Linked DNA regions of Homo sapiens: regions 2 and 3 are each linked to region 1. The links come from fine-mapping of genetic effects on gene expression. A gene starts in region 1. Each other region holds a variant in brackets. All regions are shown on one strand. Distances are from middle to middle. Region 1 holds the start of ATG4B (autophagy related 4B cysteine peptidase). Region 2 has its middle 5.3 kb from the start of DTYMK. Region 3 overlaps ATG4B (autophagy related 4B cysteine peptidase).

Region 1 (8,177 bases):
AAAACACTGTTTCAGTGCACACACTGGGCAGATTGCGCACATTAAAACCCACTCCCCTAGATCGCGCCCACCGCACTCCAGCCTGGGAAACAGAGCAAGACTCCATCTCAAGAAAAAAAAAAAAACCACTCCCCAGCAGCCTCTGCATTCATTACATGTTATGCTAACATACTGGATTTATGTTAAACTCTACAAACTGAAAGCTTTGATAGTAGGGGAATGTGTAGGTTATTATTAATTCAAGTTCTGTTTTTTTTTTATTACCAACCACATGCCAGACACAAGTGATGCACTAGAAATGCAAGCACAAGACACCAGCTCTGTCCTCAAGGAATGGGCAGTGTGGCTATTTAAGTGCTGGCACCTGCCAGTCGTCTGAATGGGGAGCATGCTTTTAGGGACAGTGCTAGGGACTGGTGGAGAACACAGCCACACTGTGGTCTGCCTGCCACCTCCTGGACCTCTCCACACCCGCAGAGGCCTTTGGCCTCTTTTCTTTCCCACCCACATTCACACCCTGGGTGACCTCATCTGATGTGACCTCCAGTCTATCTCCAGCCCAGGCTTATTCTTTTAGCTCCAAACCTGTAGACCCAAAAGCCCACTGGACACTGCTCTACAAGGATGTCTAACATCCACCTCACATTCAACACACATAAATCCAAACTCGCAACAGAAAGCTTCCCACCAGACAGGACCTCCCCAAGTCTTCCCCATCTGAGTTTCTTTTTTTTTTTTTTTTTGAGACAGAGTCTCGCTCTGTCGCCCAGGCTGGAGTGCAGTGGCGCAGTCTTGGCTCACTGCAAGCTCCGCCTCCCGGGTTCACGCCATTCTCCTGCCTCAGCCTCCTGCGTAGCTGGGATCACAGGCGCCCGCCACTATGCCCGGCTAATTTTTTGTATTTTTAGTAGCGACGGGGTTTCACCGTGTTAGCCAGGATGGTCTCGATCTCCTGACCTTGTGATCCGCCCACCTCGGCCTCTCAAAGTGCTGGGATTACAGGCGTGAGCCACCACGCCCGCCCCCCTCCATCTGAGTTGCTTAGCTCAGGCCATACACTATGGGGCCATCTTTAACTCCTCCCTCTCTACCCATCCCTCTCCCAACTTCCAATCTACAAACAAATTCTATTGTCTCAACCTCCAAAACACATGCAGAAGTCAACCTCTTACCCACCCTGAGCTAATCCACTGGCATCTCCTTGCTGGCTTGTTCAACAGTCTCTTAGCTGGTCTCGCTGCCTCTGCCCTTGCCCCTCTGCAGTACATTCTCAAAAGAGATGCCAGAGCAAGCCTGTTGAACACAGTCTATCATGTGACTCCTCCTCTAGAATGAAACCTTCCAAACGGCTGCCATCCTGTTCAGAATAAACACTGAGTCCTCACTATGAGCTGCCATCCTGTTCAGAATAAACACCGAGTCCTCACTATGAGCTGGCAAGGCCCCACTACACTGAGCCTAAGTCACCTTTCTATCCTCAGCTCCTGCTTCTCCCACCGCCACCCGCTGCACCTGAGCCACACCAGGCTCTTGCTACCTGCCCTTCCTCCTACACTGCTTTAAGTCTTCGTCAAAACTTAAACCTTCAGAGTGAGACCCTTCCTGGCCATCCTGGCTACAATTCCAATCCTCCTCATCCTTGGCCCAAATCACCATCCCCCAGGAGCCACGCACTTCGCTGCTAATGCTGGTCTCATGTCTAGAACGTTAGCTACCCCAGGGCAATGGTTTTCATCTATGTTGTTACTTCTCTAGTCCTAGTGTCTAGAACAATGCCTAACACATATCTGACAGTCAGTAACAAACAGTGTATTGAATTAATGACTATCAGAACAGAAACTGTATTACACATGGTCAAGGAAGGCAGAATCTTCAAGAACTCTAGAGATCAAAGGAGGGCAGATCATTAATCATCTCTGAAAGGAAATACAGCATCAAGTCAGAAGGAAAATTCCCCATGATATCCTACAAACATCATATACGTTTTTATCAGCATAAACAGAGACCTTTAAATGCAAACACCTTTTCTACTCTGATCCCACATGCAGCAACATCCAGTGTCCTATTAAAGTATCACCATGTCAACACAGTTGTCAAGGGAAAATAAAAGATAAAATAAAGTATCGCCATGTAACAACATAACTGTTCTCCCAACTTGAACATGATGATTTTCACATTTTAGGTCATATGATCGACACTGAACCGTGTTTTTGACCTTAGCCAAGTCTCTCATATGATACTCCAGCCTCAAGGTATCGAAATGATAGAGGCAGGAGGCAGACAAATCCTAGGCAGAGAGGGGTGGGTCACCAGTGAAACCCAACCTTCAAGCCACAGTTTAAAGCCTGAAAGCCAAGCGACGAGTCTCGGATAAATCCACAGACTGGATTGCGAACCTCTCTTCCTGTTTGGTGCGCTTTCCTCTAATTAATCCCCACCCTTCACCTATTTTACATATACCTACTTTTCTCTAATTGGTTTATTACACTGTTGTGCCCACCTTTGAGTAGTGACTTTGTTTTAACCTTTTTTGCATACTCACAGACAAATCAGCACACACTCCCCATTCTGAGCCTATAAAAGCCCTGGACCCAGCCACACCAAGGGAGACCACCCGACTTTGGGTGGAAGACCACCCTTGAGTCCCCTCTCTGCTGAGGGGTGTTTCATCACTCAATAAAACTATTCTCCACCCTCCTCACCCTTCGATTGTCAGTGTTAAGTGTAGTCTCATTCTTCTTGGACGTGGGACAAGAACTAGGGACCCAATGAATGCAAGTACAAAGAAGGCTGTAACACTGTGGCCCTGGGCCCTCTGCCGGCAAAGGGCAGCCACCCACTGTGACACCCCACGTGACAGGAGGCAGCAAAGGGAAGCAGCGGGGACGGAGCCAGCCCCAGAGCTATAGCCTGGAGCAGGGCAATGGGAGTAACAGGGCTGCTGACACTCTGCAACACCCCCTCTTGGGCTTCAGGGTTGTAAGCACCCCTGCTTGGGCGCCACTACCTTCCCCTTGTCTGGACACCAGAATCCACTGTCCCTTTGTCTGGACGCTGGAGTCCGCCGTGGGAGTTGCTTGCCACATGTCTAGCTGTAAGCTCTGCAGAGCCCACTCTGGTGCCTGCGCTTGAAACAGCTGGCGGGACCCGGCACTCACTCACCCACACACCCACTCCCGCCAGGGGCTGAGCATACAGTCATGGTGGCCATGGTATCCGTGCCATAGTGCAAACCAGGTGCCCACCGGTGGACCAAGTAGATGGGGTATCTCCTGCGGCGAGCCTGGACCCAAGCAAGGCCTGGGCAGGGGCCTCGCCAGCCGGAGGTCTCTGGCTGCCAGAGTGGCTGAGAAAAATCCTGCATCACAAACAATAACACCTAAAAAGATATAATACAACAGTTGTAAAATAGTAAACAACAAATAGTACACAGCTGCAAATAGTTCAACCGTGAATGACGGTTATTCTAAAAGACAAACTTCACAAGATATACACCTGGTCAACATGCTCCTTAGGGAGTCAGGGCTCCTGTTTCCTCCAGCCACCTACCACATTTAAGTGGTGAGCTGCTACAAATCATTTTAATAGATATTGGCAATACACATTACAGTTTTCCAACTCAGATCTTAATAAATTTATGTTGTAGCTACCAGAAAAATAAAAAGTAAAAACAATCCCATTCAGAATGACAGAATTAAACCAGATGAAAATCTTTCTTTACAGATGGGGGATACTTGGTAAAAGGCAAATCAGTTCCCACAAAGAATGAATGAGCTAAAACTTCTGTGTAAAAATATTTCTAGGGCTACTGGGCTAGCGATGGGTTTGGCGCTGACTTAAAATAATCTTGCTAGCAAAAATGGAGCGGAAGCATGAAAGGATAGGAAAAAAACCAACACTCCCTATACACACACACACACACTCCTTCTCTTTCTCTCTCTCTTAGGACCCCAAGAAACTAAGACCCGATGATACAAATTCACTGTTTCTCTTTCTCGTCACGGAAAAGCAGCTTGGAGAATCTACTGGTTACTAAATTGAAGACAAAAACAAAAAAGATACGTATACTGTGATGAACACGTCACGTTTCTCTCCTCCAACCTACCAATAACTTCATAAAAGTTAAAGAGCTTCCATCCCTTCACGCTCAGCTGCGGAAAGGCTACGCTTTCGCCCGCCGCTCGCGTCCCCGGCCCGGACCGCGGCCGCCCCGTTCGCCGCCGCGCCTCTCCCCGCCCGGCAGGCTCCGCCGCCCTCCACGGCCGACCTGGCGCAAGGGCCTGTGCAGCCACAACCTCCGGAGCGCTCCGGACGGGACCGGAAAAGCAGAAGCTCCAGCGCAACCGACGGCGGGTTCCGCGGCGCAGTGCGCCGCCGTCCCCCTCCCGCTCCCACCGCCCACCACCCACCAACACCGCCCCGCGCTCCCGCAGCGCCCGCCGCCCCGGCCCAGCCTGGCCCGCACCGGCGTGCCCCGAGGCGAGTCGCGGCAGCCCGACCCGAGCAGGGGAGGCCAATGATAAGGCGAGCACCTCCTGCGGAAAGACCGACCCCCGGCAACTCCTCACCTGCGTCCATCTTCCCAGTCCGGCCGCCGACTGACCCGAGCGGCGTCGCTCCGACGGGCCAGCAACGCGACGCGGCGACGGGACGCCGCGGGGGCCAATAGGTGTGCCGGCGCAGGCGGCGAAGACGATACGGCGCGCGAGCGGAAATACGCGGGAGCCGCCATTTTGGCGTACGGCCGGGCCGACGCGAGCCCCGGGGCGCCCTGCGGGCGGCATGGGGTCGTGTCGTGGGACGACGGCTGGTTCTGCTGTCCGACGGGACACTGTGTGCCATGGGTGGCGCTTCCTCCTCTTAGAGGACCCAGGAGCAGTTGTCGAGGCGGCAGAGGCGAGCTCTGTCCCCGTCCGAGCAGCCATCTTGCGGTACGGACGTGCTCGGCGCGCCCATGTCGCGGTACGGACTTGCCCCGCCGGGGCGACTCCCCCGCCCGTCTGCCCGCCTGCCGACGGACGCTGCGAGGGGCCTGCGGCGCCCCGCTGGTCCGAAGACGCCCGAACCCGCGGCTGGCGAGGACGCGGGCGGGGGCTGGGGCGGGGGCGGGCCCGCTGCGGGCGCCTGCGCCTCCATCTTGCCGTACGGCGCGGACGCCGCGGGCCGGCCCACGTCCCGAGCCGTGTCGCCGCCGCGCTCCCTCCCTCGGGGCGGTCCGCGGGCGGGCGGGCGGCTAGGGCCGGGGCCTGGCTGCGCGGCTGGGCCAAGGCCCGCGATGGTGATCTGCTGTGCGGCCGTGAACTGCTCCAACCGGCAGGGAAAGGGCGAGAAGCGCGCCGTCTCCTTCCACAGGTACGCGGGCCCCGGGCCGCCACGCCCCCGCCCCGACCCGGCCCTGCGGGGAAACTGAGGCCCCGCGGCCGGCCCGAACGCGGGGGGCGGGGGCGCCGGGCCTCGGCGGCCGGGGCGCGGGGGAGCGGGCGTGGGCGCTGTGTGACCTTGGCCCGGCCGCCGTCTCTGGGCCGGGCGCCTCGGGCAGCGCAGCCGCCCCCACCCCGGCCGCCTGGGTCCGCCCTGCGCGCGATCGATCCGGCCGGCGCCTAGGCTTCAGAAGCCGCACGCTCTGGAAGCGCAGGTCCTGGGCCGATTGTCCTGCTCGGCCGCGACTGCTGACTCTCCGGACCGCGCGGGCCGTCGGCCTGGATGTCTGCGAGCAGGAGCGACCGGGCAGACGCGACCTGCGCCTCCGTAGCTGACAGCCCCCGAGAGGGCTTTCCGGGACTGGGCCCCCGAGCCCAGGACGCGGGTACGCGCGGAGAGTCTACGGGACGGCCGGCTGGGGACGGCATCCTCCTGCGCTCCCTTAGAGCCTGGCCCGGGGCTCTCGGCCGCTTCCCACGTGGGCCCCCGCGGCAGGGCCCAAACCCCTCTAAGGCCTTGTGAGTTCAGCCTATTTCAGTGAGATTTCTGCGGATTACACGCGGGAGGCACCAGAACCGCGAACAGACTTTAAAAACCACTTTGGAGATGTTTCTGTTTTATGTTGCATGGTGTTATTTAAGTTTTAAAGACGGGAATGGCACGTGTTATTTATAGGGTTATTGAAAGTTCACAGTAGTTTGCTGTAAGTCTTAAATCATTACAATGTATTATAAGAATTAGTAACATTAGATTATTTCACAAGTCAGCCAGCGCACTTTCTTGACAATTTCCTTCAGAGCTTGTGTCCTAGAAGTTTTGTTATTGTTTTTTGAAAACGAGGCAACGTGTTGCAACGGTCTAACATGGTATGGGAGGAAAGGACATCGGAATTGGGGGTGGGGGGGTACCTTTGCAGTTGGCCTCACAGTGTTCAGAAAGGAGGTTAGAAGGTCCTGTTGCTTAGAACGGCCCAGTCCATCCTGTTAGGATTTGTCCTGGTCCACACTGGCCTCAGGTGGAGCAAATAGCAGTTAGAACTGACCACCCTGTCCCTTATGTGCACATTAGGGCCTGGTTTTTTTTTCTTTTTTTCTCTTTTTTTTGAGAAGGAGTCTCCCTCTGTCGCCCAGGCTGGAGTGCATTGGTGCGATCTCGGCTCACTGCAACCCCCGCTCCTGGGTTCAAGCTATTCTCCTGCTTCAGCCTCCCAAGTAGCTGGGATTACAGGCAAGCGCCACCACGCCTGTCTAATTTTTTTGTATTTTTAGTAGAGACAGGGTTTCACCATATTGGCCAGGCTGGTCTCGAACTCTGGCCTCAAAGTCCTGACCTCAAGTGATCCACCCGCCTCGGCCTCCCAAAGTGCTGGGATTACAGGCATAAGCCACCCCGCCCGGCCCAGGCCTATGTTCTTAAACACAGAGTTTGCCTTAATGAAGAAATGGTTATGAAGGATCTTTATTAGGTAATAAAGAAATGACTAAACATCCTATTCAGTATCTTCCTGCGCTGGTTGCTTTTTTCTCACCATTTTTAAATTATGGTATAATACATGTAACATGAAATTTACCATCCTAACTTTTTTTGGAGACAGAGTCCCACTCTGTCACCCAGGCTGGAGTGCAATGGTATGACCGTAGCTCACTGCAGCCTCAGCCTCCTGGACCCAAGTGGTCCTCCCATCTCAGCCTCCAGAGTAGCTGGGATCACAGGCATGAGCCACGGCTCCCAGCCTTTCCTACCGCTTTTTCAGTGTACAATTCATGGCAACAAATACATTCACGTTGTTGTGCAGCTGTCACTACCATCCACCTCCAGAATTATTTTTATTTTGTAAAGCGGAATCTCTGGACTCATTAAACATTAATACCCCAGTCCTCCTCTCCCTAGGCTCTGGGAACCCGCATTCTCCTGTCTCTATGAATTTGATTACTCTGAGTACCTCATGTGAGTGGTATCATGCAGTGTTTGTTTTTTTGCACCTGCCCTATTTCATTCAGTATAATGTCCTCAAGGATCATCTGAGTTGGTTGATTTTTTTTGAGGGGAGAAGACCGGGTTTCACTCTGTTCCCCAGGATGGGGAGCAGTGGTGCAGTCTTAGCTCACTGTAACTTCGAATTTCTGGGCTCAAAGAACCCTCAAGCCTCAGGCTCCCAAGTAACTGGAACTGCAGGTGAGCACCATTGTGCCCTGTCCCTGGGCTGGTTGACTTTTAAAAGGAGCATTTTTACTCCTGGAGGTGGGCATGCAACAGGAACACAGAACTGTAGCTCTGGAGTCTTCTGGAGGTCTCCAGATTCTCAGCTGCTTGCGCACAGCCAGGGCTGCCTCCATGCAGTCCTGACCTCTCACGCCCTAGTGTCTGTGGATGCTGGCCCTGGTTTTGGTACCCAGAGTCCTACCTTCCAGGCAAGTTGGGAGGGTTGGTTAGCAGTCAGCTTCTAGGAGCTATTTCCTGCTGTCCTGAGGCCATCCTGGCACTGTCTGTCAGCATCCTGTGTCCCCATTGGGCATTTACCACAGCCTGGGGAGCAGTTGGTTACCTTCTTTCCCATCCGCCCTACAGACTATAAGCTCTGTATGGGTAGACAACGGGTCTTTCAGATTTCTACTCCAGTAATAACTGCAGGTAGAAGATGTTCTTTAAATCTTTTTGAAGTATTTTTTTAAGTGGATGAAGTCAATACGGCTTAGGGTGCGTGCAAAAATACTTGTTTTGCTTTTACAGTTGATTATTTTAAGGGGAGACATTTA
Region 2 (8,177 bases), 54 kb before region 1:
CGCCTCGGCCTTCCAAAGTGGTGGGATTACAGGCATGAGACACCGAGCCCAGCCTGTTTTGTTTTTTGAGACAGGATCTCACATTGTCGCCCAGGCTGGAGGACAGTGGTGTGATCACAGTTCACTGCAGCTTGACCTCCTGGGCTCAAGCAATCTTCTTGCCTTGGCCTCCGCAAATGCTGGGACTATAGGTATAAGCTGCCGCACCCAGCCTGTCTTACATTTTTAGCTGAATACTCCTTGTGAGCATCTGGCCCTGCTTTACTCACCCTGCTTTGTCCCACTGACTAGATCTATTTCATTGTAGTGGTGTATCAGACTTTAACAAACTCTTTACAGATGTTCCCAATATTTCAGTATCATAAATCATGCTGTAATGAACATGGCTATACATAGAACTGCAAGTATCTGTTCCCATTATGTATCACCGCCTTACAGACCCCTGAAAACTTAGTGGTTTAAAAGAACCATTTTTTTTTAGACGGAATCTTGCTCTGTCACCCAGGCTGGAGTGTGGTGGCGCGATCTCAGCTCACTGCAACCTCCACCTCCTGGGTTCAAGCAATTCTGCTGCCTCAGCCTCCTGAGTAGGTGGGACTACAGGCGCGTGCCATCATGCCTAGCTAATTTTTGTATTTTTAGTAGAGATGGGCTTTCACCAAATTGGCCAAGCTGGTCTTGAACTCCTGACCTTGTGATCCACCCACCTTGGCCTCCCAAAGTGCTGGGATTACAGGCGTGAGCCACCGTGCCGCCAAGAACTATTTTGTTATATGTGACAGCGTGCCAGGAATTTCAGCAGCTCCACCAGGTGACTGTCCTGTCCAGTGTGACAGAAAAGAGATCACTGGGGTGGCTGGAAGGCTGATGTCAGCTGGCACCGTGGGCCAGAACACCCACATGTGGCCTCTCCAGCACAGCAGTCTCAGTAGCAGCGGGTCTCACAGAGTCCCAGGAGGCTGGGGTGGAAGCCACCGGCTCTTGTGACCTCACTTTGGTAGCCCTAAGACATCACCTCACTACATTCTATTGGTCAAGCAAGTCACTGGGGCCGACCCAGGTTGAATGGGAGAAACATTATACCCACAACTAACAGTGGGAGGAGGAGCAAGAATACCACATTGTCTTACCAGTCCTTTTTTTTTGAGACGGAGTCTTGCTCTGTCGCAAGGCTGGAGTGCGGTGGCGCAATCTCGGCTCACTGCAATCTCCTCCTCCTGGGTTCAAGCGATTCTCCTGCCTCAGCCTCCCAAGTAGCTGGGACTACAGGCGCCCGCCACCAAGCCCTACCAATTTTTTTTGTATTTTTAGTAGAGACCGGTTTTCACTATGTTGGCCAGGCTGGTCTCGAACTCCTGACCTCATCATCCACTCGCCTCGGCCTCCCAAAGTGCTAGAATTACAGTGTGAGCCACCATGCCTGGCCGAGTATTGCACATTTTAAGTGCTGATACTTATAAATGAATTGCCCAAAGGGAAGGTTATACCAACCAGCATGGCCACTGGTTGCTTTCCATACTTCTGCCAACCCTAGATTTCATCAGGCTTTTTAAATGTTTAACCTTCGCTAACTCATTAGAGGGGGGAAAAAGCCAACCTTAAATATTTTAATCACATTTATTTCATTTTAAGTGAAGCTAAACTTTTTTTTAACATATTTGTTGCCTATTTGTGGTTCTGTCCTTTTCTCCTTTATATCTTTTACTGATTCTTTTTTTTTTGAGATGGAGTCTCGCTCTGTCGCCCAGGCTGGAGTGCAGTGGTGTGATCTTGGCTCACTGCAAGCTCTGCCTCCCAGGTTCATGCCATTCTCCTGCCTCAGCCTCCCGAAAAGCTGGGACTACAGGCGCCCGCCACCACGCCGGGCTAATTTTTTGTATTTTTAGTAGAGATGGGGTTTCACCATGTTAGCCAGGATGGTCTCGATCTGCTGACCTTGTGATCCGCCCGCCTCGGTCTCCCAAAGTGCTGGGATTACAGGCGTGAGCCACCGCGCCTGGCCATCTTTTAGTGATTCTCTGTGTAGAAACTGGTCTTCATGTATTTTGTCTAAAAAAAAAAAATCTTTATTATTAAGGGTTATTGGCCCTCACATATCATATATTAAATATAACTCTCCCAGAGATCAATTTGTCTTCTTTCATTCACACACACAAAACTGGCAAACCCTTTTGAAGGGACCCTGTTTTAGAAACTGCCAGAGAGGGCCAGGCGCGGTGGCTCATGCCTGTAATCCCAGCAATTTAGGAGGCCAAGGCGGGTGGATCACCTGAGGTCAGGAGTTCGAGACCAGCCTGGCCAACATGGTGAAACACCCCGTCTCTACTAAAAATACAAAATTAGCCAGGCATGGTGGTGGGTGCCTGTAATCCCAGCTACTCGGGAGGCTGAGGCAGGAGAATTGCTTGAACCTGGGAGGTGGAGGTTGCAGTTAGCCGAGACTGCGCCATTGCACTCCAGCCTGGGCGACAGAGCAAGACTCAGTCTCAAAAAAAAAAAAAAAAAAAAAAAGAGTTGTATTTCTCAGTGCAACAACTCTAATGTGAACAGGCGGGACAGCACACTCCATGGGGCCTCTCAGGGACCCACATTCCTTCTTGTATGGTGTCTGTCCACAAAGGGCCTTGCCATCGTCTGCCTGGTCAAGGCTGGGTTGCAACAAGGGGTATGTCGGAGAGCGTAGGGGATGCAAGCCTGCTGTGTGAAGGTCCACATGCCACATCTACCTGCAAGGAGGGTTGGGAGTTTAGCAGAGCAGTGAGTACCAGCACAACTCGAAGCTCCTGGGAGCAGGTGAGGACATGGACTGAACTGTGTCCCTCAAAATTCCTGTGTTGAAGCCCTGACCCCCAACGTGACTGTTTGTAGATAGGGCCCTTAAGGAGCTTTGCTTTTTTTTTTTTTTTTTTTTGAGACAGTCTCGCCCTGTCGCCCAGGCTGGAGTGCAATAGGGCGATCTCAGCTGCAACCTCCGCCTCCTGGGTTCAAGCAATTCTCCTGCCTCAGCCTCCTGAGTAGCTGGGATTACAGGCGCCCGTCACCACACCCAGCTAATTTGTGTATATTTAGTAGAGACGGGGTTTCACCACGTTGGCCAGGCTGGTCTCGAGCTCCTGATCTCGTGATCTGCCCGCCTCTGCCTCCCAAAGTGCTGAGATTACAGGCGTGAGCCAACGCACCTGGCCAAGGAGCTAATTAAGGTTAAATGAAGTCCTAATGTGATAGGACCAACAGTTTTCATGTGTCTGCTGCACAGTTAACAGACCCATGATGCTCAGACAGCAGGGTTTGCAGCAGAGAAAGAGTTTAACAAGGCCCAGGTGAGGAGGTGAAAGGAGACGTCTCCTCAAATACATCTCCCTCAGGAGTTCTGAGCTAAGGTTTTTAAGGGGATCATGGAAGGTGAGGGGCTGGAAAATGGGGGTCGCTGACTGGCCAGGGTAAGGAGGATGATTCACTAGAATGTGGAAACTGCATTCCTTGCTGAGTCAGCTCCTGTGGGGTCCTTCAGAGCAGCTGGCATCAGTACTTTCACTGGTATGCAGGGCCTGAAAGAATCTCAGGCTGGGCGTGGTGGCTCATGCCTGCAATCCCAGGGCTTCAGGAGGCCGAGGCAGGATGACCGCTTGGGCCCACCAGTTCAAGACCAGCCTGGGCAACAGGGCAAGACCCCGTCAGTATTTAAAAAAAAAAAAAAGCCAGATGTGTGTGCCTGTAGTTCCAGATACTTCAGATGCTGAGGCAGGAGGATCACTCGAGACCAGAACCTCAAGGCTGCAGTGAGCTACGATTGTGCCACTGCACTTCAGCCTGAACAAGAGTGAGACCCTGTCTCTAAAAAGAAAAAAAAATTAAAATAAAAAAAAAATCTCAAAGGGAAAAGTTAAGGTTTCATAATGTTCAAGTTGTTATCTCTGGAGCAGTTAAGGGTAACTGTAATCTTATAACAAGAGTCTACCTGATTCTGAGGCACGAGGCGCCAGCTCAGAGGGGCTCACCACATGACTGGTGCTGCGTGTGCTGCAAGCTCGGTTATTCCATTTCCCCCTCCCCTCTTCCTTGATTAATTTTGTGTTTTTAGTGACGGTTTTCTTTTTTTATATTTTTTTAAAAATTGAGACAAGGTCTCACTCTGTCACCTGGGCTGGAGTGCAGTGGCGCAACCATGGCTCACTGCAGCCTCAACCTCCTAGGCTCAAGTGATCCTCCCACCTCAGCTTCCCAAGTAGCTGGGACTATAGGCACGCCCACCTATTTATTTTGTAGAGATAAATAAATCTACAAATAAGTCTATGTTGCCCAGGCTGGTCTCAAACTCCTGAGCTCAAGCAATCTACCTGCCTCCCAAAGTGCTGGGATTGTAGGTGTGAGCCACCATGCCTGGCCAGGGATGGTTTCAATAAGGGTGCAACCCTAATCCGATAGGGCTGGTACCCTCATGAGAAAAGGAAGAGGTACCAGAGCATTCTCTTTGCTATGTGCAACTCTAAAAGACAGCCCGTACCAGGCAGCAATCTGTCGGGCACCTTAATCTTGGACTTCCAGCCAATAAATGCCTATTGCTTCAGTTCCCCAGTCTAAGGTAGTCTGT[C/T]GTGACAGCCCCAGCCCACTGACGGTGAGAGACTTTATTCCCTGCGTGGTGGAAGTTGCAGCACACTAAGAAACAGGGACTAGCAAAAGAGCTTTCCTGCTCCTTCAGTTTTTTTGTTTTTGTTTTTTTTTTTTGAGACAGTGTCTCACTCTGTCACCCAGGCTGCAGTGCAGTGGCATGATCTCAGCTCACTGCAACCTCCACCTCCCAGGTTCAAGTGATTCTCCTGTCTCAACCTCCCAAGTAGCTGGGATTACAGGCATGTGCCACCACACCCAGCTAATTTTTGTATTTTTAGTAGAGACGGTGTTTCACCATGTTGTCTAGGCTGGTCTTGAACTCCTGACCTCAAATGATTCACCCACCTCGGCCTCCCAAAGTGCTGGGATTACAGGTGTCAGCCACAACACCCAGGTCCTTTTTTTTAAATGGAAAATCTCAAACACAAGAAAGCAGATAACCTGGCTGGGTGCGCTGGCTCACGCCTGTAATCCCAGCGCTTTGGGAGGCTGAGGCAGGTGGACTCACCTGAGGTCAGGAGTTCAAGACCAGCCTGGCCAACATGGTGAAATCCTGTCTCTACTAAAAATACAAAAAATTAGCCGGGTGTTGTGGCGGGCGCCTGTAAATCCCAGCTACTTGGGAGGCTGAGGCAGGAGAATCGTCTGAACCTAGGAGGTGGATGTTGCAGCGAGCTGAGATCACACCACTGGACTCCAGCCTGGGTAACAGACCGAGGCTGTCTGGGAAAAAAAGAAAAAAAAAAAAAGCAAGCAGAGAACCTAATGAACCCACGAACCCATGTGTTCACCTGCATCTTTCTGCAATTATCAGCCTGTGGCCAACTCCATTTCACCTGTATCTCTGACCACACAGACCCAGCATCCCACCATTTCCCCTATAAAGTGGATGTACTCACCTATCAGGCCTCCAGAGTCTCGTGGAGTGACTCTTGCTCCCATTGCTCCTGGACAGACAGTGCTGGAAATCAGGCCTGAGGCTGTCAGTGGCAGTACGAAGGACACTGGATGCTCAGCCACGCAGACCCTCCTATGCCCACGCCAGGGCTGAGGTCAGCAGGCTGGGGTGTGGCAGTCATCCTTTGATCACGCAGGAACACCAAGAGAACTGCTAGGATGTGGACCAACCTGATGTCACTGAGTCACGGGAGCAGCTCCTGCCTGCCTAACACTGGACTTCATGTAATGTCAGATGATTAAATATCTTAATGCTGTGAGCCACAGGAGGCTGGCTGGTATTCTGCTACCTGTGCTAAAAGGTATCCTAAGAGAGGTACACCATGCTGGAATAGGCAAAAGCAAACCTGTTTCTTGTATCTTAGTAACACACTTCAAGGTGCTTATGTGCTTGAGCAATTCCTGCAGTCAAATGGGCCCTCCACCCCCCAGTACACAAGGCCCAGCCAGCCAGATTCCCTCCATCTTCACCCTCCTCCCCCGTCCCAGGGGAGCCAGGAAAGCCATGCATCCACCAAGGCGGATGCGCTGTGTCCCTCTGCATCAGCCTGCTGAGTCCTCCTGGACCTGATGAGAGACAGTACCGCAGCCTTGCCCAGCCCCGGGAAGGTGGTCTTCCTTCCTACAATCCCCTTCATCCTCTGGAAGGTGGTCTTCCTTCCTACAATCCCCTTCATCCTCTGGAAGGTGGTCTTCCTTACTACAATCCCCTTCATCCTCTGGAAGGTGGTCTTCCTTACTACAATCCCCTTCATCCTCTGGAAGGCAACAAGATGGAATTTTATAAGGAGACATCAATCAGAAAAAAGGATATTACTTTTATTACTTATCTATGTAAGGGAATAGTAAGTACTATTCTTAGTACTTGTAAGCGTTCGCTAGGTTGTGCTGTGGTAACAAAGGATCCCGAAGTCTCAGTGACTCGAAATCACGATGGTTTACTTCTTGCTGGTGCTGCCCATCAGCTACAACGGCTGTACTTCATGGGCCTTTGTTACAGGATCTGGGGTGAAAAACCAGCCCTCACTGTGCACATGCTGTGTTCATGCTGGGGGCAGAAGGGGAGGGACCAAACCACAAAACACCCTTTAAAGCTTCTGCCTGAACAGGGCACATGACAGCAGACTACTTTACATTACCATTTGGAAGTCTCACCACTAAGCTTGACGTAAAGGAAGAAAGGGTAGGCCAGGTGCAGTGGTTCACGTCTGTAATCCCAGCACTTAGGGAGGCTGACGTGGGCGGATCACCCGAGGTCAGGAATTTGAGACCGGCCTGGCAAACATGGTGAAAACCCATCTCTACTAATACAAAAATTAGCTGGGCGTGGTGGCAGGTGCCTGTAATCTCAGCTACTTGGGAGGTTGATGCAGGAGAATAGGTTGAACCCGGGAAGTGGAGGTTGCAGTGAGCCAAGATCATGCCATTGCACTCCACTCTGGGCCACAAGACAGAAACTCCGTCTCAAAAAAAAAATTAAATTAAAAAATAAATTGGCCGGGCGCAGTGGCTCACGCCTGTAATCTCAGCACTTTGGGAGGCTGAGATGGGCGGATCATGAGGTCAGGAGATCGAGACCATCCTGGCTAACACGGTGAAACCCCGTCTCTACTAAAAAATACAAAAAAAATTAGCCGGGCATGATGGTGGGCACCTGTAGTCCCAGCTAGTGGGGAGGCTGAGGCAGGAGAATGGGATGAACTCGGGAGGTGGAGCTTGCAGTGAGCCAAGATTGCGCCACTGCACTCCAGCCTGGGCAACAGAGCAAGACTCCATCTCAAAAAAATAAAATAAAAATACAAAAATTAGCCGGGCGTGGTGGTGGGCGCCTGTAATCCCAGCTACTCAGGAGGCTGAGGCAGGAGAATAGCTTGAACCCGGGAGGTGGAGGGTGCAGTGAGCTGAGATCGCGCCACTGCACTCCAGCCTGGGGGACAGAGCAGGACTCCGTCTCAAATAAAATAAAAGCAATAAAAGTAAATTAAAAAGGAAGAAAGGGCATAACTGGTAATAACAATATAACCCATATCCTTCCAGAACCCCAAACTGAATTGGGGAGGCTTCAGTCTGGAAAACATAAAGCTACTCTAGGTATGCAATGATAATATAATCGCGAGCTTACACAAATGCTGGGAGTAAAGTCCGGGAAATTGTTGCCAATGACCTCAGCCCAAAGCACTGAAGTGGGTGGTGGTCTCAAGAGCTCATGGGGAAAAAACCAATGCAAACTCAACACTTAGAAAGCTACCAGCAATTTCTTGGTCTACATCAGAGGCAGGTGGTTCTGAAAACAGAACAGCTTTGAATTTCATCTATATTTCTGGCTGAGGGTGCCTCCCAAGAATAATCGCCTCGAAAGGTAAGAGTGCCTCGTCTGGTAGACTGTAATCCAGGGCTACACAGATGATTCTGGGAAATGCAGTTCCTACCATTTCTTCTGCTAAGCAGAGAAAGTGATGTCTAGCTGACAACTGACAATATGGCACATATAGATAGTAGTATTTTAGATATCTAAAATAACAAAAAGTCTCACCTGAGAAATGTCCAGGCAGCCTGATATCCCTAAGATAACAGCAAACACTACTGAGCGCTTTCTAGATACCGGGGAC
Region 3 (8,177 bases), 32 kb before region 1:
GTCTGCCCTCCGGGTCTGGAAGAGGCTGTGCTGTTCCAGGCACTGAATGTGATCATCTTTTAGAGCAGCCACAAGAAGCGAATACGAGCATCGGAGAGGCCACAAGTCCTCAGCCACCTCACCGGGGACCCAGCAGGGCCCCCTCCGATCTGGCTTTGGGCCCTTCACACCTATACCAGGGCTGCCCACAGGGATGCACTGGCCAGAGTGAGCAATGTCCTCACCAAGCCCCCTGCTGTGCCCCAGGCATGGCCTCCCACAGGCCAGGACAGTCACTGCGCACTTGGGGAAGGCTTTGCTATGATTCAAATCGAGGCAAACCCTGCAACTCCAGGCACTTCCTGTGACTTCCTCCTGCTGAAGATGGGAACCGCCATTTTACTTTCCTAAAATCCTATTTTCCTTGCACTTTTTCCTTCTAGGGTTGTATGAGGTGGCTGATGCCACGGCTGGTAGAGAGCCAGGCTGCAGGCAGGACAGGCCCCCTGCCAGGGCTGGGGACACACCTGCTCAGGGCCCCACAGCCCGCCACGCAGGCAGCCACATCCTTTACGTGTGAACGGGCTGAAACATTCACTTATTTTTTTTCTGGAACTCACATTCAATTAGAACTTAAGGAAAAAATAGACACAAGGTTTGTTTTCTACTGAAACTTATTATTTGCCATTAAGAATTGCAAACTATACTACTAAGAATGAACAACATTCTCTTCATTAAGCCTTTTTCAAAACACACGAGACAAAGCTCCCCTTTGGTCAAGGTGTCCCACACATTACCACTGCAGCTCCCAGCACAGCGGCGCACCATGAACTCGGACGTGGAGCCCAAGGAATGGAGATCGCACCAGCCTTCCCTGCTTCCCCACCCCAACTACACCCAAGGGAGAAAGGATACGAGGAAATACACTATGTCTTCAATGCTTGGGGGGCTGGGGGTGTCCTCTGCTACCAGGTGGGCCGGTCAGTGCCGACTGTCCGGCGCGCGTCCTCGGGGATCTCTGGCTCCCCGACCTACACAAGCAGCAGCAGCAGCAGCGAGTCCTGCCAACGCCGCAGTAGCTGCTCATGAGAAAAGTGCCCACGCTCCCCAAGCCCTCCTGTTTACATTTCCTAGTGGGGCAAAGATACTTTCCCAGGACAGGCAGCAGAGCAGCGGGGCAGAGTGCACTCTGGGACCCGGGACAGCAGGTTACACAGGGTCAGGCGGTGGTGGGTGCTGGAATCGGGGCTGAGGTTCTGGAAATGCCACCAGGTGATGCCACCCTGTGGTGTCTGCCCACCACACACCACAAGACTCAAGTGGTTTTCCCCTTTTGGCCCTAAACCACCTAACACCTCAGCGGCATGGGAGGGCAATTCTCAGCAAGGCAAGGACATGGGGAAGGCTCCTGGGAGAGGCACGCCGTCCACCCTCAAGCCTGGCTGTCACAGGTGGAGGCCCCGCCCCCCCCCCGTCACCACACCTGGGGAAGCTGCCACAGAATGCCACAGCACTGGAAAGGGACACTCTGAGGGCAGGCTCCAGCAGCAGCTCCAGGACAGCCAGCCGCCCTTCTGCCCAGGCCGCCCACGCTGTGTCCTGTGCACGCCATCTTCAGGTTTCCCACACACCCACTTCCTGAATACTTTTCTCCCCAAAGCAAGGAGGAACCTCGCCTTCGTTCCTCCAACCTCATCTCCCACTGAGGTAGCCCTTGGTAAGCCAGGCTGGGCAGAGAGGACACAGCGGTGGGCGCGCCCCCCTCGAGAGCAGCCCAGTCCTTGGGCGTGGGGCCGCAGTGTGGCTGCCGCTCCTCTCACGCCAGCCTGCACAGGTCTTCTGAGACTCTGACTCAGGGAGCGCCCAGAAATTCATGTCTGTGTCTGACAACTTCAAACAGGACTTTAATTCCAAACCAACCACAGAACCGGCGCCTGGGAGCAAGTGGGACTGAGGCCCAGGTGCTAACACGGGGCTGGCAGTGTCGAGAGAACACTCTGGAAGCTCCTAACAGACGGCTCCGCGTGCGGATGCACAGGCCCTGACGGGCACTCTGAGCTGGGCAGTCTGACACCAAGCAGTAAGGCCTCCCGGGCAGCGCAGCCTCAGTCCACGAGCACAGCGGGTGGCCCTCTGGGGGGAGGCAGCACGGGGCGCAGCCCTCGGCAGGCGAGCGGGCGGGATGGATGAAACGCAGCGGCACCAGGAGCCCCAGGCTCTCACAGGTGCCACCCCCGACCCCAGGATTTTCAAAGGGACAGGATTTCAAAGTCTTCATCTTCTGAGTCGAAGAATCTTTCCAGTCGCTCTACATCAGAAGAATCTAGAAGGAACAGGACATAGCGCATCAGGCATCTTGGGTGGGCCACCTGGGTGTGAGTCAAGGGCCCTTGGCGTGGGGCAGACTGAGCAGTGCCTGCTCTGCAGCCCACAGACAGCTGTCCCCATGCGGGTGTGAACAGGTCCGGGGGTTGTGCAGACCTGCGAATATGGGGGGAGGGAGCAGAGAAGAGGAGCAGGGCAGGGTGAGGAGGGCAGGGGGCGGCCGGCACAATCTCAGGCCTGAGGGGCCTCTGTCCCGCGTCTGACCCTCGTGGTCATCAGGAGTGGTTCCATTGCCATTGCCTTGTTTGTAGAGTTTCCCACAGGGAGACAGAGATGAGGAGGACGCGCTCACGGCCACTCACTTCACTGCACGAGCCCAGGCCGGCTCCTGCGGCACGCTGGCCATGGTCCGAGGGGTCTACGCCACCCATGGCCAGTGGTGCCCAAGTGAACCAGTCCCCCACCCAGGACTGCGTCACCACAGAGCCTGCATGTTCTGTCTGCTCCAGACCCCTGAGGACTCCATGGTAGCACGCCCAGCTCCACAGCGCCCGGGCAGGCAGCGCTGGTGGGGAAGACGAGGTGGGTCCTGGGCTGCTGGGCGCAAGCTTGGAGGAGGGGACGCTCCACTCCATACCTGGTCTCACAGGCGAACCACTGCCAAGTGCTCACGGCTCAGGCTCACACACACCTTAATGGTCAAAACCAAGGGGGCCAGGACTGGGGAAGCAAGGGCACAGATCGTACCTCCGAGGGACCCCACCTGGACTTGGCAGCTCTCACCTAGGGACAGGTTCAGGACGTCGGGGCAGGCCAGATGTGAAGGCTGCAGCTCCACCAGCTCAAACATGGGCAGGGCACCTCCAAGCAGAGACAGCTGTTAGTGAGACATGGCCGTTAGGTGCAGCCTCACCCCAGTGCTTGCTGCGGCCAAGAGAAAGGGGCCAGCCGGCCACAGCCAGCGGACAAACCTGTCATCCCATCTCACTGATGAGAAAACAGAGGCAGCTCCACACTAAAGGCTACACGAGAACCCAGTGTGGTGATCAACACACAGCACAGTCTGACCACCACGGCAGAGGGGGGTGGGCCACACGCACTCGGCCGGCGTAGCTCAGCACCCCATCACCACCCCCATCTCAACAGGAGACGGATGAGGACACTGGAAATCCCATTCTAAAGTCAACACGCAACATCCGTCCCCAGGGTTGTTAACTGTGTTGCCAGATGGGCAATCCAGGACGCCCCACCCTGCTCAGCTACATAGCTGTGCCAGGCGGGACAAAGCTCCCCACGGCCCAGTGAGGCTGCCTGAGACCTGGACGCAGGCCTTCGACCCCTGCACGCCCCACTGCCTGTCTCCCTGGGTGGCTCAGCTCGGCTGTGGGTGTGGGGCGGCTACAAACCTTTTTGACTTGCTGGCACCAATCATTGAAGTCATCTTCAGTCTTACAGAAAAACCCCTAAAACGAAATGACGATGAGCAGAACACGACACCCCCATCTGCAGTCGGCTAAGAGGTGGGGGCTTCCATTCCCACTGCCAGTGGCGCAGCAGAGGCCCCCAGCATGCAGGTGCTGGACATTCCAGCCTGCCTTGGCTCCTGTGGCCAGGAACGGAGCTCCGAGGGTGCCCTGTGCATGGTCCCCTGCACCAGTGCCCGGCTCCCCTCAGGCTCCACTGCGTTGCTGTGCCTTGATTCGCCCACGAGATGTTACGTGGTGTGCATCTCTCAAACCTCACCGAGTGTTCCGGGATTGGGGCAGGTTATGAGTTAGGGCCAAGTGGGGAGCTCTTCTCTCTGTGACTGTGAGGCAGGGCCGCTGGGTCTCAGCCTTCGCCCAGCAGCTCCCTGGAAGCTTGGCGGCAAAGGCCACCGAGAACTGCCCAAGGACACCGTGACACAGGGAGCCTCCTGCTGAGGAGCCAGGAGACAGGGGACCGGCCAAGGGTCACCGGCAATCACATCCTTAAAGCTGCCGCCTGTAATGACAGTCACTAGGAATTCTCAACGCTGCCAGATGCGCAGATGTTAACACAAAAAGAAACGAAATGGGGGGAGAAGCTCAAACTGGGCACTCTCTTCCCCTGAAGACACCATTCTGCCGCCTCGGCGCTGGTGTAGGAGCACTCTCCCCCGGGGACAGGGGACATTCCTCCTCCTCACGGGTGAGGACAGTTATCCCACCAGGTGGCCCCTTTGGTCTCAACTCAACGTTCACGCGTCCACTCCTCTGTCTGCGGTGGCTGGCTCTCTAGCCTGACCTGACTGTTAGAGTGCCAATCACTGTAAGCCACCAAGCTGCGTTTACAGTAACAAACATACCTAATTCTAGTTCGACGAGGAATTCGTGACTAGGTTCTGGTAAGAAGTGTGCGCCAGGCTGCGCGCAGTGGCTCACGCCTGTAATCCCAGCACTTTGGGAGGCCGAGGTGGGTGGATCATGAGGTCAGGAGATCAAGACCATCCTGGCTAACACAGTGAAAACCCGTCTCTATTAAAAATACAGAAAATTAGCCAGGCGTGGTGGCGGGTGCCTGTAGTCCCAGCTAATCCAGAGGCTGAGGCAGGAGAATGGCGTGAACCTGGGAGGCGGAGCTTGCAGTGAGCCGAGATCG[T/C]GCCACTGCACTCCAGCCTGGGCGACAGAGTGAGACTCCGTCTCAAAAACAAACAAACAAACAAAAAGTGTGAGCCACAGAGCTCCAGCCCATGTTCCCCACTACTGCCACCCTGCCCAGGAGGTGCATGGAGCGTGGTGTGCACTCTGGGGCTGCGCCACAGCTCAGAGACCGTCCCATTTCAGGCCCAGATCTGCCTTCTTCCTCCTAAATGGGGCGGAGCATCCACAACAGAGCCCCCGATTCGGTTAACTGCTTCCCTGAGCATGTCACCGTCATTCATGATTTCTAGGGGGGTTTTTTGGCCTCTTTCCCCATCAAATATATTTGAGGGCAGGCAGGTCTGCATAAATCACACACCAAAAATCACAACTAGGTAATCAAAATGGAAAAACAGGGAAGCTCCTTCTTAGGAAATCCCCCAGAGAGGTCAAGTCAGAGCCTCCGGAAAACAAAAGGTGGTGCAGGAGTGGGTGGGTGGAGGGGCCGCCCGTGTTTAAATGTGGGTGTGACGAAGGTGGTGCAGGGGTGGGTGGAGGGGCCGCCCGTGTGTTTAAATGTAGGTGTGAGGGGGACACACTCACCATGGCTCACACTCATCCATGCACACTCAGCACGCGCCCACACACGCTCACATCCAGACACACGCTCTCTGGGCCACTCGAAGGCCATGAAGGCTGCACAGGAGGTGGTGCCTGGGGGAGGGACGTGAGGGTGCAAGGACACAGTTCCGGCTCTTATACCCTTCAGATTCCCAACCACGTGAACACAGTACTTATCCCAACATGCTGAAAAAAAAAACGCAAAAATCCGAAAGTTTTCCTCGTCATTCCCAAACAGCATTCAGCACCAAATGCCTGTGTGCTCAGGTGGCCGCCACGTACCACAGCGATGGACGGGTCAAGCTCCGCGATGCTCATGCGGCACGGCGGGTGCTGGCAGTGGAAGCTCTCGTCCGGGATGAAGCAGCCATCAGTGGGCTCCACGGCTGGCTGCGTGGTGTGGGGGTCCAGGTAGATGAGCTCCTCACCTGGGAGGATGAGGCAGGTGGGCAGGTGGGTGGCCGAGCCGGCAGAGGAAAGGGACAGAGGAGGCCGCATTTCAGACCCACTGCACCCACATCACACTGAGAAGCAGTGGGCAGGAGGTGGGGAGGGAGCCGAGGGCACCAGACCATCAGGGAAAGGGGCACACAGGAGGCCGCCCGCGACCAGGCTGAAAATGAACCCCAGGGCATGCTGCTTTTCCACCAGTGGCCTCAAGTGGTCACCTGGGGTGTGGTACCTGCTCATGGAATGCCCTTAAAAGGCCCAGGCCCACAGGGACACGGTGGGAACCCTGGACTCACCAACGTAGCCGATGAAGTAGTGGGCGCTGTTGGGCTTCCCTCCGATGACGCCCAGGGACTGGGGCATCATGAAGCAGTGCTGTGGAGGGGCGGGGGACTGAGCACAGGTCCCAGGTGGGAGCAGACGGTCCCCCCACCCACTGCCATAGGGGGCCCAAGGGCCTGCTGAGGCCCAACTGGGTGACACAAGAGGGGACAGGAGGGGACATGGTACCAAAGAGCTTACTGTCCAGGAAAGACCACAGGACATCCCACAGGCACAAGAAACCCAATCTGCAGGCTCAGCTCAGGGAAGCTTCATGTCAGAGGTGGGCTTTGGGGAGGCCGGGAGTGAGGGGGCCTGGCAGGAGATGTGAGCAGGGGTGCGGGAGGTGGCCCTGCTGAGTGCTTTGACCTGACAGGGCAGAAGCGATGGAGACGGGGCCTATGTGTGGGGGCAGCTGAGACCCCACAGGATGGGCAGAAGGCTGGACGGAGGGGCCAAGTTCAGACAACTGAATAATTTTAACAGGAAGCCACATTTCAGTTCCATACAAATGTGACTCCTTGGTCTAAAATTTGAGTTACCTGAAGAAAGGATGGTTTTCCCTTCTGCTTGCTTTTTTTTTTTTTTTATTTGAGATGGAGTCTCACTCTGTCACCCAGGATGGAGTGCAATGGCATGATCTCGGGTCACTGCAAGCTCCGCCTCCTGGGTTCAAGAGATTCTCCTGCCTCAGCCTCCTGTGTAGCTGGGACTACAGGCGCGCACCACCATGCCCGGCTAATTTTTATATTTTTAGTAGAGACAGGGTTTCACCATGTTGGCCAGGCTGGTCTCAGACTCCTGACCTCGTGATCTGCCCGCTTTGCCCTCCCAAAGTGCTGGGATTACAGTCATGAGCCACCGCTCCCCGCCCCCTTTTGCTTTCATGACATGGGGGAGCCTGTGGCTGGAGCTCCTCACACAGCCCTGCCCATCCCCAGGCCCTGCCCACACGTCCCTTCCTCACAGGCCAACCCACCCTCCGAAGGGACCTCAGGCCAAGAGGGCTGTGGGGGAGTGGGGTGGGCATGCCTGGGGCACAGTGGAGACCCGGGAGGGGGCGGGGCTCCCCGTCAGGCCGAGGAGTGGCACCTGGTTCCAAGGACCCCCTGCAAGCGCCTCATGCTTTCATCCTCGACACTCGCCTTGACACTTGCAGAACGAAAGCAGCACGTGCCTACTGATGGACGTGCCTCACGCCCACTCACCCCTTGGGCAACGGTGTAAACCAGGGTTGTTTACCCCTCCCCCGAGAGCCGGCTGCACAAATGGCCACGTGACGACGATGCGCTGAAAGTGACTAAGAACTGGGAGAAGGGGACGGGGACTCAGGGCAAGCGCCGCACGGCAGGACCCACCTTCAGCGTCTCCACGTAGGCCTCGTTGATGTCCGTGAGCCCCAGGCGCAGGGGAATGAGAAGTACCAGGGGTCTCCATGGCGACGGCCTGTTGGTGACCTCAGCTCCGGCAGGGAATCCGTTGCAGTGCCGGTCGGAATCTGCAGGAAACGCAGTGGCGCCTGCACAGGGAACGCTGGTCCTGCACAACCTTCCTAGAAAGGGAGACATGCTTTCACTAACCAAGCAGACCTGTGCAAAAGTGCTCCCACAACAAGCAAGCAAATGATGACTGTGTAACAGAAAAAGGGCGGTACAAAGCCAGGTGCTTACAGTGAAATTCAAACTTGGAAAATATAGAAAAGCGTAAGAAAATTTTTTCATAATCTTGCCACCCAGAGAAAAAAGAAATAGTTTCTATGCATACTTAATTCAAGAGTTTTATTGTGAAATAAAGCACACACACGAAACAGTGCAAGAAAAAGCCACGTGCACTTGAGAGGAAAATCACAGAAGTACCCACGCAGCCTGCCAGCCTGGCTAG

The links. PIP is the estimated chance that this variant, and not a neighbour inherited with it, causes the effect.
Region 2: its variant is fine-mapped to the expression of ATG4B in whole blood (INTERVAL, PIP above 0.99).
Region 3: its variant is fine-mapped to the expression of ATG4B in whole blood (TOPMed, PIP above 0.99).

Annotation. Positions count from the first base shown.
Region 1 is chr2:241,634,116-241,642,292 of GRCh38, reverse strand. ATG4B (autophagy related 4B cysteine peptidase) reads right to left here and starts at 4,600. Exons shown (of 13, transcript NM_013325.5): 1 at 4,569-4,600. The coding sequence starts at 4,578. It overlaps THAP4 (THAP domain containing 4), which reads left to right and starts at 5,135. Exons shown (of 6, transcript NM_015963.6): 1 at 5,135-5,352. The coding sequence starts at 5,276. RefSeq lists enhancers at 3,119-3,652, 4,052-4,979 and silencers at 4,143-4,282, 4,323-4,512, 4,533-4,582, 4,953-5,302, 5,333-5,402 and 1 more.
Region 2 is chr2:241,687,987-241,696,163 of GRCh38, reverse strand. It overlaps a transcript of ING5 not described here. Among named protein-coding and RNA genes, the nearest start is that of DTYMK, 5.3 kb to the right of the region's middle. The variant C/T (reference allele first, on the strand shown) is at 4,592.
Region 3 is chr2:241,666,316-241,674,492 of GRCh38, reverse strand. It overlaps ATG4B (autophagy related 4B cysteine peptidase), which reads right to left. Exons shown (of 13, transcript NM_013325.5): 8 at 7,655-7,848; 9 at 6,272-6,350; 10 at 5,808-5,953; 11 at 3,711-3,767; 12 at 3,088-3,181; 13 at 636-2,302. The coding sequence ends at 2,229. Among named protein-coding and RNA genes, the nearest start is that of DTYMK, 16 kb to the left of the region's middle. RefSeq lists enhancers at 5,308-5,807, 5,808-6,309. The variant T/C (reference allele first, on the strand shown) is at 4,924.